Regions from separate parts of the Homo sapiens genome. Here region 2 is linked to region 1. A link means that fine-mapping ties the variant in region 1 to the expression of a gene that starts in the linked region. Tissue or cell type: stomach. Region 1 holds a variant in brackets; the other region holds the start of a gene. All regions are shown on one strand. Distances are between the middles of the regions.

Region 1 (6,068 bases):
GATTTTACAAAACTATCCTCAAGGTAACCTGAAAATAAATATTAAAGGAAAAATGATCAATATAAGCAGAAAGTAAAATAAATGATTATACACTAGAATTTAAGTGTTTTAAAGCCAATGGTTTGAACAAAAACCAAATATGCTTACAATAAGGACTTTAAAAAATGACTCTTAGGAATGCAAATTAGGTTTGTTTAAACAAAAATAAAAAGTTTAGATACCAAATAATCTCTTAGGAAAATTTTTTCTTCCCTTTCTAAAAGTACAGGTTTATTGATGCGGTTTGATTTGCCATGGCCCATGCATACAGAATGGTCTGTGGGCTCTCAGTGAATGCTTTTGACTCGGTAGCACCTGGTAGACTAAAGCGAAAAATGAAAGAAAGAAAAAGGAAACCACAACCACAATTAGCACCTTGCTGGAATAATGTCAAAGATCTCTTAAAGCCACCGTTCTTTTGTAAACCCTTCTCTGATGAAAGAAAAGTGAACTGCTGTTACCAGCACCCCGACCCTTGTTCCAGGGTCACTAATAACATAAAAAGCAGAACTTGTATATACAGCAAATACAGAACTTTGCGTTGACCTATTTCTGGGCATCTTTAATATACGTTGCACGATTTCACTGCTTTCCTCACCCTTGCTACTATTCCACTGGACTCCTTTTATTTCAAGAATTAGACAACTTTTCTGGCAAATGGTGGTGAATCCAGGCCTCTGGGAATGCCACATGACCCTTAAGTCACACCGGGGCAGGGTCCACAGTGGCCATGGAGCCTGCTTGCTAGCTGGTCTATGTCCAAAACTAGAGATGAGAACTCCCACAAACAACAGTAACCCTGCACCCAGCCCACCCCATTCTCATCTATGTTAAGGGGGTGTAATGAGTGTGAGGAATACCTTAGCAGGGGAGGTTATGGCCTACTTGCTTCTGTCCTAGGGTGAGAATAAGTTTGAAAATCCTCAGAATTGAAATACATCTGAGAAACAAACAAACAAAACTAGATTCTAAGAACTGGCAATTTGACTGGATTTTACATAAAGCTTCAGGGCTGACCAAGGAATTAGATGCAGTTCAGAGATGTGAAGCATGGGTAGTGCAGCAACATGGAGCACTGAAATCAAAGAGCTGGGATTTGAATCCTAGCCACAGATGACCAGTTATGAAATCTTGGCTAGGTTATTAGTCCTCTTTTTGCCTCAGATTCCTCACTTAACAAATTGGAGACAATAAAAATCACCTATCTTATAGAGTTGTTACTACTGGAGATAAAAATATAAACCCCATGATAAGCATGTTACCAACAAATTAAGATCTTAGGGCCAGTGGAACCTGCGATCAGCTATATACCGAATTACGCACACTGGCCTCCAGACAGTCCAAAATGATCCGCAAATCTTTATTCAGAAAATTTACCAGAACAAAAGGCACCACACTGCTTTTCAACCATACATAGCATGAAAAGACAGAAAATCATTCAATTAGCATATGTGTTTCACTGCTGTGAACTGAGGAGCCACTGATGTTTGACATCCACCCACCCACCTTCTTTAGAAACAGAATGAAAGAAGGAGTGAGAGGAAGTTGTAAGATCTCAGTAGGGAATAAAACAGGTGCCACATTAAGTCATTATTCTGAAAAATATATATACATTTTTAAGAGTATTATAACAAAATGTCCCAATTTAATGCACTTCTATTTTAAGAAACTCTTATTTCTTGAGCAATTAATTTTTACCAGGTTAAATTCATTTCAGTAATTATTGAGAAACTTCTAAGTAACAATCACTGTACAAGGTGCTAAAAGTCATGAATACAAAAAAGGACACTGACTGTCTTGCCTGGTCGGGGAAAGAGATGTTTTGACTCTTCTGGACCACTGTAACTTACTATCATATAGAAAGATTTTTGTTGCTTTTGTTATTGTTTATAGTTCATTATACTTTATTTTATATAGGGTAAACTTAATAAAGTAAATATATTAAGTACAAAACCTTCTTTATCTTGGGAGGCCGAGGTGGGTGGATCACAAGATCAGGAGTTTGAGACCAGCCTGGCCAATATGGTGAAACCCCATCTCCACTAAAAATACAAAAATTAGCCGGGCATGGTGGCGGGCACCTGTAGTCTCAGCTACTCGGGAGGCCGAGGCAGGAGAATCACTTGAACCCGGAAGGCAGAGGTTGTAGTGAGCCGAGATGGAGCCATTGCATTCCAGTCTGGGCGACAGAACAAGACTCCATCTCAAAAAAAAAAAAAAAACAAAACAAAACAAAAAAACAAAACAACCTCCTTTATCATGACTACAGCTCATATACTTAACCAGTCACACAAGATTATTTTTCATCACCCAATTGTACTTTGTAAATGCCTACCCTTCATATCTTCCTCCTGCAGCTCCCTGAGATGAGATGGCCCTCTTTCTACACACTCTAGTCTCATCCTTCAAAATCCAGCCCAACCACCACCCACTCTGTAAACTGCTCCTCCAACTCCTTCTACCACCCACTGGCCCAGCCAGAAATCTCCTTCCTCTGTACTTGTATAGCACCTAGTTTGTACTAATTTTATACTTTGTACTTTCAGATTTTCTGAGAGATCTGTTTTCAAGTCTTGCAGTCATTGCTGGATTATCAGATCCTTTATTTACAGAAGTGACTGGGTTTTGTTCATCTCTATATCTTCCTTAATGACTAACTCGTTGCCTATATATAGAGTAAGTACTAAATAAACACAGAACAAAATTTTAAAATTCAACTTTACAAACAGGGTCACACATTAACATCTTAGTCATTTTATTACAATGTAGATACAGATGGTTTAAGATTTATGGATAATTATACTAACCTCTGTTATTCCCTAGAACTTGTTTGCTGAAGAGTGTATTTAGGCTTTTGGGTCACATGAGAAAGAGTAATGATTAGGGTCGGATTGTATCTCTTACTTTGTTGTGTACTAATGTGTAATGTCAAGCATTTAATACAAAGTAACAACCAAAGAACTGGAAGTGTTTAAATAGTAAGAGCCCAAAAATATTTGTGAAACACATCGATGAATAAGTGATGAACATTTCAATGTATTTACATAAACTATATCAGAGGTAATACAAAATAACATTACAATATCTATGTGTAATCTGAAGTTCATTTCCTTATTACTCCAATGAGAAGTCAGAGATCCATCTGCTCCTAAGTCATGACCATTAAGATGGAGTGGGGTGTGAGCCTGTTGGAAGCCAAATCATGAAGAAGGGATGAGTCAGCTCAAGGCCAATTCTACCAGTGGGAAGACAGTCAGGCAGTCAAACACAGACAATACAATGACTATTGCAGCTATTCACAGAAAAAAAGAAGACAATTCAGAATGTAGCAGGGTGTTTCTCCACTCCCCACCCCCAACTTCCCAGGTTCTAAGAAATTGGAATCTACGGAAACAATGGAAAGAGGTAGTTTACCGAAACCATGAAAAGCATTGGAAATATATCAGAACTTCTTTGGAACCTACTGGATAAAATGCAAAAAACCACAGAGGTCCCACTGGGCTCTACTCCTGCATGGAGCCCAGTGAGACTTTAGTGGAGGAAGGTTTCCTGAGGA[T/C]GAGTGATGATGCCTATTAACCATGTACCTATGGGAACAGGGACAGGTGAGAATCAGCCAAGTGGGGTAGCCTGGGAGAAGCACCGGAAGCAGATGGCTGCCACCTTCATGCATCTCTGCAGGCAGCATAGCCTTTGTAACGGACAGGCATTAACCAAGACGTGGCAGAGTGAAAAAGAAATCATGGATGAAATAGTACTCAGATACTTAAAATAGTACTTGGATACCTACTAGTGCTTACTCATTAGCATACAGAAGACAATACTTGAGGGCTGTAGCAAAATAACTGAGAGGATTTTGAAATGGGCAGGGGTCCTGCAGTAGGATAGGGGGTGAAACTCAGCAAAATGTCAGGTTATCTGCTGCTAACATAACCCCATCTGTAACCTCCAAGGTCCTTGGGCCTTTCAGGAACATGTTTTTCACATTTCATAGACCACTGTAAATCTAAATAGCTAATACAACAGCTAAAGATCTTAAAGCAATTTGGAGACATTCATATAGTAAATTCCCTTCGTCTACCAAAGGAAATATGAGCATCTCTGAGGCAGAGCAGCTGCTTAATGGTTACAGAGCAATATTACACAACAGCTTAATCCAGGAAGAAAAGAACAACTCTGCATTTGTGTGATGCTGTATTTACACTACATGTGTGCTTTTTAAAAAAAATAAAATTGAGTAGGAAATAAAGACTTCTACAAACTGAAAAGTCTCAAAGGCAATATCAAATTATATTATTTTACTTCTTTTTTATTTTTCTCTGACAAAAGCAACAGTAAATCACTACTCAGAAGTTAATATACTGTTTAACCTCCTTTACAAACAATAACAGAGGGACACAATGGCATATCTAACTGTTAATATCTCAAATTATAATCAGTACCATTTGAATGTTAAACAACATTTACATAGAAAATCCAAAGGAAGACTGATAATGCTCATTTTTACAGTCTACTGTGTTCTATTCTTGAAATTAAAAAAAAAGAAGCCACAGAAAGCAGTTATTAAATTCATGAAAGCCGTCTTCAAGTATTCGAAGGACTATTAATGTAGATGGTGGATTTGACTTATTCTGCATAGTTCCAGGAGCTGTTTTTTGGCTCAATAAACAGATTTGTCATCCAATGGGAACAGGCCTAAAAAGGCATGTGAAATTTTGCAAAGGTAGCATAACCAATATATTCCCAACAACTGTGATGACCTTCACAAGCAGGCATTAACTTCACGTTCACCATTATCTTATAAAATATGTCATATTATTGGTGTTGCCATTTTACAGATGAGGAAACTTTCATCTTACAGAGATAGTTTCTCAGTGGCTATAAAGACTCCCACTGGATATAAAAATTCTTGCTTTGTGAAGGAAATCTCAAAAAAAAAAAAAAAAAAAACAGAAAAAAAGAAGAAAGCATCTCAAAAGCCACTGCAACCCACAGATTCTCCCTTCTTACACAGATGTTTTCCTATGTTAGTTTTCTGGCATTGTTCATTTGGAGAACAAACAGGTGGACATAAGACATCTATAGGCATTTTCCAGCCCTATGATTGCAATTGTTCACTTTCTTCAACAGAGTTTAAAAGAAGGCTTAATTCTTTTTGTAAAGGGACAAGAAGAGATTACTTTATACTAGCTCTTTGCCAATCTTCATATAACTTCAGATACCACAACTAACCCATTGGTAATTTTCTGGTAGTGATGTTACAGGACATAGTTCTATCTTCAGTTTCTCAACTGACTTGAACTATCCATGGTTAAAGCTAAACTTGTGTTGAAGTTAAAGCTGAAACTGTGATTATAAAATAGAAATATTAATCATTGCAAAGACGGTGATTTTCTTCACAGAGATTAAATCTCAGCCTATAGCCCAGGTTAACATTCAAATATTAATTTAGAATTAAGTGTATCTCTCAATATGAAACGTAAACCCACGAGGATGATTTAGGTGATCTTGGAGGGAGTCAGAAATTTCCCAACTTTAACACGCCCTGATAGCATTATATTTTTTTCAATATTTCCTTCCAGTCCTTTAAACTTTTTCCGCATATATATATATATTTATTTATAAAATCAATATCAAATTTAAATATAGTTGTATCCAGCTTTTTTCCTATTAACATTGTATCTGTCCTTTTAGATAAAGTTTTTCAAAAGCATGATCTTTATGACTATATATTGCATGGCTGTATCATACTTTATATTAACCATTCCATTGTTTGGCATTTTAGGTTATTTCCCAATTTTTAAAATATAATAAACAAATAGCACTGTAATTAACATCCTCATACACAAATCTTTGTCAGCCATTCTCATGATTTCCTTAGGCTGGAGTTCCCAGAATTAGAATTACAGGGTCAAAGGACATAAACTCTTTTAAAACTCTTGGTAAAAACTGTCAAGCAGCTTTCCACAAAGTTGTTTTGCCAACTTACACTCCTTAGGGCAAGCTGTGAGCATGTCCATCTCACAATCCTG
Region 2 (6,068 bases), 530 kb after region 1:
CTCTGAAATGGGGAAGAAGGTTAATCTACCCTGAGAGAAATAGCACAGAGGAAAAAGCAGCTTGAAAGGCAGAAGGCAAACTTCAAAAATGTCACAATTTTGCCTAGGTTAGGTCTAAAGAGCAAAACAAACACATAAAGTACCATCATACTAAGGTATTTTTGTTCAGGGACCTATCAATGAGCACAGTGATGATTCACATGTCTATGAAAATGTGCTTTTTAAACTAGTCTGACTTGACTTATCAAGAATTCTTAACAAATCACTTTCAACAATAAAAACTGTTTTACAATTTCACCTGTATTTTTACCTTTAATAAGAGTTATTTAAGCACTGATTATTCTACTAGATGCTAAATTGCCTATTATATTTAATGCATGTGAAAAGTTGAATCTGAGCCCTAATGTTTTACTAAAACAACATAAAAGGTTACATTCCTTAATATAAAAGTAAAACTGAATTTAGGGAACAAACTCTTGGCAATAAAAACAGCCTTTCCTCTGCCTTCCCTCTTTTGCCTGGTAGTATTGATACTGCCACTGTGTCACCTCCTATGCTAAAAAAGTTTTCACTGAGTCACATTCAATTACAATTCCAGAAAAACAGCTCCATGTTGAGACATTACTCAACTTCTCAAGCAGTTTCTTTACTAAACCACTATATAATAAGACTAGCAGGAGGACAAACAATAAACTGCTCCTTTATTGACCTTCTCACTCCTCTCCTCTCAACCCAAAGAGGTTTTCGGGAAAATGGCTTATGGATGGCAGCAGTTTGCACTTGTTACTATTCACTATAACAGGTCCCTGGATTGTAACTGCAGAGACCATTTGAGTTACGGTCTTTTTCAAGCTATATGTGGGTCACATTTTATAAAACCATTATTTTATTCATGCATTTTTCCACAGGTTCTGAATCGGTCATTACGAATTAAAGAAATGAGGCAGTAGGCAAATAAGAAGTACATGTTATGATTCATTGATTCTTGTCTCAGAACTTCCTGTTAAGCTGATTATATGTCTGCATTTTTAAATGCTTAGATTTCTCTTATTAAACAAAGTACCTCGTAGGCAAAAGTGACACGGTCCTCATCATTTTCTTTAAATGACGCTCTATTTCATTTATTCCAACTACAGCTTCTCAAGTATGTTAACAGAAATCTCAGTAGTGTCAAAGGATCTAATAGAATTGTTTCCATCGAAAATGATGAATTCTGGAAGAGTACTACACCAAAACAATTATGGAATTATACATTTTAACTTATATTTTCATATTTTACTAATACTTCGTATATGTTTTTAATGTACCTTCAAACCACGTTAAAGGGTCTTATTTAAAAACATTTTCCAAGTAAGCATGGAAAAGCTAAAATAAGCCTTAAATAATTTAGTCTGGCTCTCTGATGGTATAGAGAAAATAACATGGGTCATTGCCCTACCTGTAAACCCACAGCTGGATAGTGACAGAAATGGGACTAGAATCTAGTTTTTCTTTCCACGACACCAAATCTCATTTGGCTCTTTCTTTCCAGTGGATTTCTCACCTCAATTCTTCAAATATCTTTTTGCTTTTAAGAGATGGCACAAACTAAGGAAAAACAGAGCATCTCTCCGAATTTTACCTTTAAAATAAGTAAAATCTAAAGAGTTGGAAGAATTTAATATTACACCAAAAGCCTTTTAATCCAGGAATGGCGCATACTAAGCAGTCATCAAATGGTGACTGTTATTAATATTATTCTTACCACAAGGAAAGCAGTGAATTTTTAAAAGTGCATATATTAGCATAGTAGGCTGAGGACCTATTTAACACATCTTTTTAAATTGCACTTAATTATCCTTAGTCGCCTTTGGACTGTAACTTTACAATATAATTTATGACCCGCCCACAATGACCTTGATTTTTTTTTCTCTTCTACTTTTAGAGACTGCTATATTGCAATATTTTAAAGTAATAATTGGTCATGTCCTCTCAGCCCTGGTGATACAGACATCCACCCTGACTCTCAAGGGATCTTAAAATGTGACCCACATATAGCTTGAAAAAGACCGTAACTTAAATGGACTCTGCAGTTACAATCCAGCGACCTGTTACAGTGAACAGTAACAAGTGCAAACTGCTGCCATCCATAAGCCATTTTCCGAAAACCTCTTTGGATCAAGAGGAGAGGAGTGAGAAGGTCAATAAAGGAGCAAACTGTTTGTCCTCTCTGCAGCTTCACACCAGAAGTCTGGAATGAATGAAAAGCTCTGGAATAGCACAGAGAAACCCGGGATCCCAGTGCAGGTCTCCAGACGGGGGTGCGGGGAGAGAAACTGTAGTTTACAAGCGAGAAACTCAGGATACAGATTTAAAATAAATAAATAAATAACTAGCCAACATCGTCTCGACTAGAGCAGGAACCCCCCACCCCCAGTTGAGGGAGGAGCACTTAGCAAGGGGCTGTAGCTCTAGCAGAAGACGCTCTGAAAAAGGCCAGGCCTGGGGCGGGGAGGCACCGAGAAACCCCCGGGTTCCAAACAGAGCAGGTGCAGGGGGCGTGCAGGAACAGGTGAGGGCGTCCCGGCGCGGAGGAGCGGCGGGCGGGCCCGGCAGAGCGGAGCGGGGGCCGGGGATGGGGGTGGGGGTGCGGATGGGGATGGGGGTGGGGGCGGCCGCTTCGCCCCCGCGCCTGCACACTCACCGTCGCCGCTGGCTCGCCTCTCGCTGCCGCCGCTCTCCCGACCGCCAGCAGCTCTTTCCCCTCCTCCTGCCGCGCCACCTCCGCCTCCTCCGGCGCCGCCGCCCAGGCCGGGCCGCTCTCCCCTTCCGCTTCCGGGAGCCTGAGGGCCTGGACCGGCCGAGTGGGTGTCCGCATGCCCGCGCGCCCGCGTGGGGAGGGACGACTGCCGCCGTCGCCGTCTCGCTTAGCTCCCGGGAGCCGCGATGGGAGCCGCTGAGGGCCGAAACTCCTGCAATCGCGCCGCAGCCCCAGAGCCGCGGACCCAGGCAGACCGCACTCTCCAGAGCGCTTGCACCTGGCGCGCCTGGGCGCCTCTGCCCCTCCCCAGCCCTACTTGAGCCGTCCTTCTCATTGTCCCCATATCCTCACTGCTCACCTCTCCCGAGAGACAGGATGGGGGCCTTAGCTTAAAAGATTGCATGTATCCTTTCTTCGGGGGATGTGGCCAGCAGGCCTCTCTCCCCGCAGGTGTTCTGGGATGTCCCATGGTACCTTGCTTCAAAGCGCGGTCTGCAGCATCAGCATCCTCTGGGAACTCACAATCTTTGAAATGCACAATTTCAGGCCTGCTGAATCAGTACATGCACTTCAGCAAGATCACCAGGTGACTCCTGGGGTGCACCGTAAAGATGGAAAAGCATTGCACTGTAGTGCATGGTCTCGTCCACTTCAGACCCTCTATTGGGTTGCCTCAGACATCCCAGGATATTTCCTGTTCCTGTCCTCAACCTAAATCCACACCCAAACAATCTTTTCTTATATTTTGGGAGACCTCCAAAAGTTTCCTGCTTTCCCATCCCTGCAAAAGCCGACAACTTTTGGACTCAGCGATGCAAGTAATCCACCTCTCAGTCTAACTTGGTATCTTCACCAAACACCAGAGATCTACTAACTTTCCCACCTCACTCCGGCTGAACAGTATTTGGGGAAGGTTAAACCGTTTGCAGTAATGTGGAGCTAGATCTTTCTGCCCACGTGCCACAGGAGGAGACAGTGTGTTGGTGGAAGAAATATTACCTGTTGTATAAAATCTGTATTCCTTATAAGATGTGCTTAAAAGCCCTCCACAGACACATCCCTACCTACCTCTCCAGTCTTAGCTCCAACTAATTTGGTTCATTTCCCCATTCTAGAATGCCCTGCTCTCTGATGATCTTAACCCTATCCAGATTTGAGAGTGGAAATCTTGCCAAACCAGAGTTCTCTCACCACTGCCCTTATATAGTGCACATTGTTGCCTGTTTGGGGCCTCATATTACCTTGTATTGCTAAGGATTTTTAAACATGTTGTGTCCTGGTTTCTGAACTAATTATAAACACCTTGTGACCTTAAAAACTTTGGTCAGTGGTTATCAAAGTGGGATCCCTAGACCAGCAGCATCGGTATCACCTGTCAACTTGTGAGAAATCCATATTCTTTTGCCCCATCCCAGATCTACTGTAGTAGAAACTGTTTAGGTGTAGCCCAGCAATCCGTGATGTAACAAGCCTTTTAGGTGATCCTAATACACACTCAAGTTTTAGAATTACTGACCTAGATTACTAGATATTCCCAAAAGAACCCAGTGGTAGGAATTGATTTACCCATAAGCAGATTTTATTGCCTTTCAGGTTAACAAATACACTCCCCGATATATGCATAGCGAGGTTGAAAGACTAGTCACGATTGCTTTTGATAGAATTACCTTTATTTTTCATAAATCATTTGATGTAGTAGGATTTTTGTAACTTTCTCTGTTTGAAAAGAAGGAGATATTTCATATAAACAATCACTTTGAAGGAAGAGGAAATGTGGAATCCTCCCACCGGAATCCAGCTACCTGATTGCGTATTCAATGTGAATCCCTTCTACCCAAATCCAGCTACCTGATTGCATATTAAATGTGGACTCCTCCCTACCCGAATCCAGCTACCAGAATTGCATATTAAATGTAAAATCCCCCCCCCACCCAAATCCAGCTACCCAATTGCATATTAAAAGTAGAATCCCCTCCACCTGAATCCAGCTACATGAATTGCATATTATTTTGCTTTCTCTTCAGATACCCCTGTGAGAGGGAATAATTTGTGACAAGTGATCTCAAAACTGCCAAAATAAGAATTAGTTGACAGGTCCATGATTGCACATGACAATTGGAAGTGCATGGATTTTTCAGTCCCTTTTTAAAATAAGTTAGCCTGTCTTTTATCAGCCAAATCAATTCCACAGAGAATTTTTAAGCAAGGGAATAGGAGAGAAGAGGCAGGAGAAACATCCTTAAAAACATGAACCTTTTTAGCATGGGCATTTCATGAGTATAATCAAAGGCCTGCCTATCCCTTACACTGAAGGTCAAGTCATCTGGTTCTATCATTCATGCTAATCATTGGTTATATTGTATTGCAACCCATACATTCAGGCACCTGGGTAACAATAAGGGGGTGAGGGAGATGTGGCATCAGGTAATCTTTTGAAAAGATTTTCTATTTACTGGGTATATTATGGAAAGACGATATAGATCGTACCATATTTTTTCCCTCCAGAATTCTAATCTACTTCATGGGGCCTGGGACAAACTGAAATGTGATTATTAATCAAACTAATATTTATCTGGAAGTAGAAAAAGTAGACAAGGACAAGTAGCATTGCTGCCACTGCCAACCAAGCTTCTAACAAAGGCACACTCAGGGCATTTATGAGGGTAAACACAGCCAACTCCTGTGCTTCTGTGCCGTGACTAGGGAGGATCTGGATTTTAGTGCAATTTCCAAAAATCAGTGCAGTCCAGAGTTTAATCAGTACTGGCTAATAGCCCTTGGCAGCTTTGGATGGATGGCATTCTCCACCTGCCCAGCTGGGTACCATGCCTTAAGCACCCATATTTGATGCACATTCATGATTTCTTGGTTGCCTATAGTTGTCTCTCCCATCTGTTTGAGTGGCAGAGTGCCTGTGCCATAACAATCTAATATTCTAAAAGTTGTTCTTAACCTCTTCTCTTTTGGGTTACACATCTCTTTGAGTATCTGATGAAAGTTGTGGACCCCAGCAAAGTACACATATACACAAATACACACACACACACACACACACACACATATATACACACACACATACAGGAACATATATATTTATATATATGAAATTTATATATATGAAGTTTCACAAGTTGCCCCACCTTCCTATGCCTCCAAAGGATCACAGCGAAGCCAGGAACTTCAGGCTAAGAAATATCCCTAGAATGTAGAGAGTAGGTAAAATAAACATTTTTCCCCAAATATCAAGGAAAACTGCAAAACAAACAAACAAAAACGACTGTGTGCTTAGGAGAAAAAAACAATAGCAGTGCTAAACAGAGTTACAAGG

What was found. PIP is the estimated chance that this variant, and not a neighbour inherited with it, causes the effect.
Region 2: it holds the start of ZDHHC21, and the variant in region 1 is fine-mapped to the expression of ZDHHC21 in stomach (GTEx, PIP 0.97).

The regions. Positions count from the first base shown.
Region 1 is chr9:14,155,866-14,161,933 of GRCh38, forward strand. It overlaps NFIB (nuclear factor I B), which reads right to left. Exons shown (of 11, transcript NM_001190737.2): 4 at 1-28. Among named protein-coding and RNA genes, the nearest start is that of NFIB, 160 kb to the right of the region's middle. The variant T/C (reference allele first, on the strand shown) is at 3,596.
Region 2 is chr9:14,690,546-14,696,613 of GRCh38, forward strand. ZDHHC21 (zDHHC palmitoyltransferase 21) reads right to left here and starts at 2,887. Exons shown (of 10, transcript NM_178566.6): 1 at 2,684-2,887. RefSeq lists silencers at 2,529-2,668, 2,749-2,818 and an enhancer at 2,892-3,392.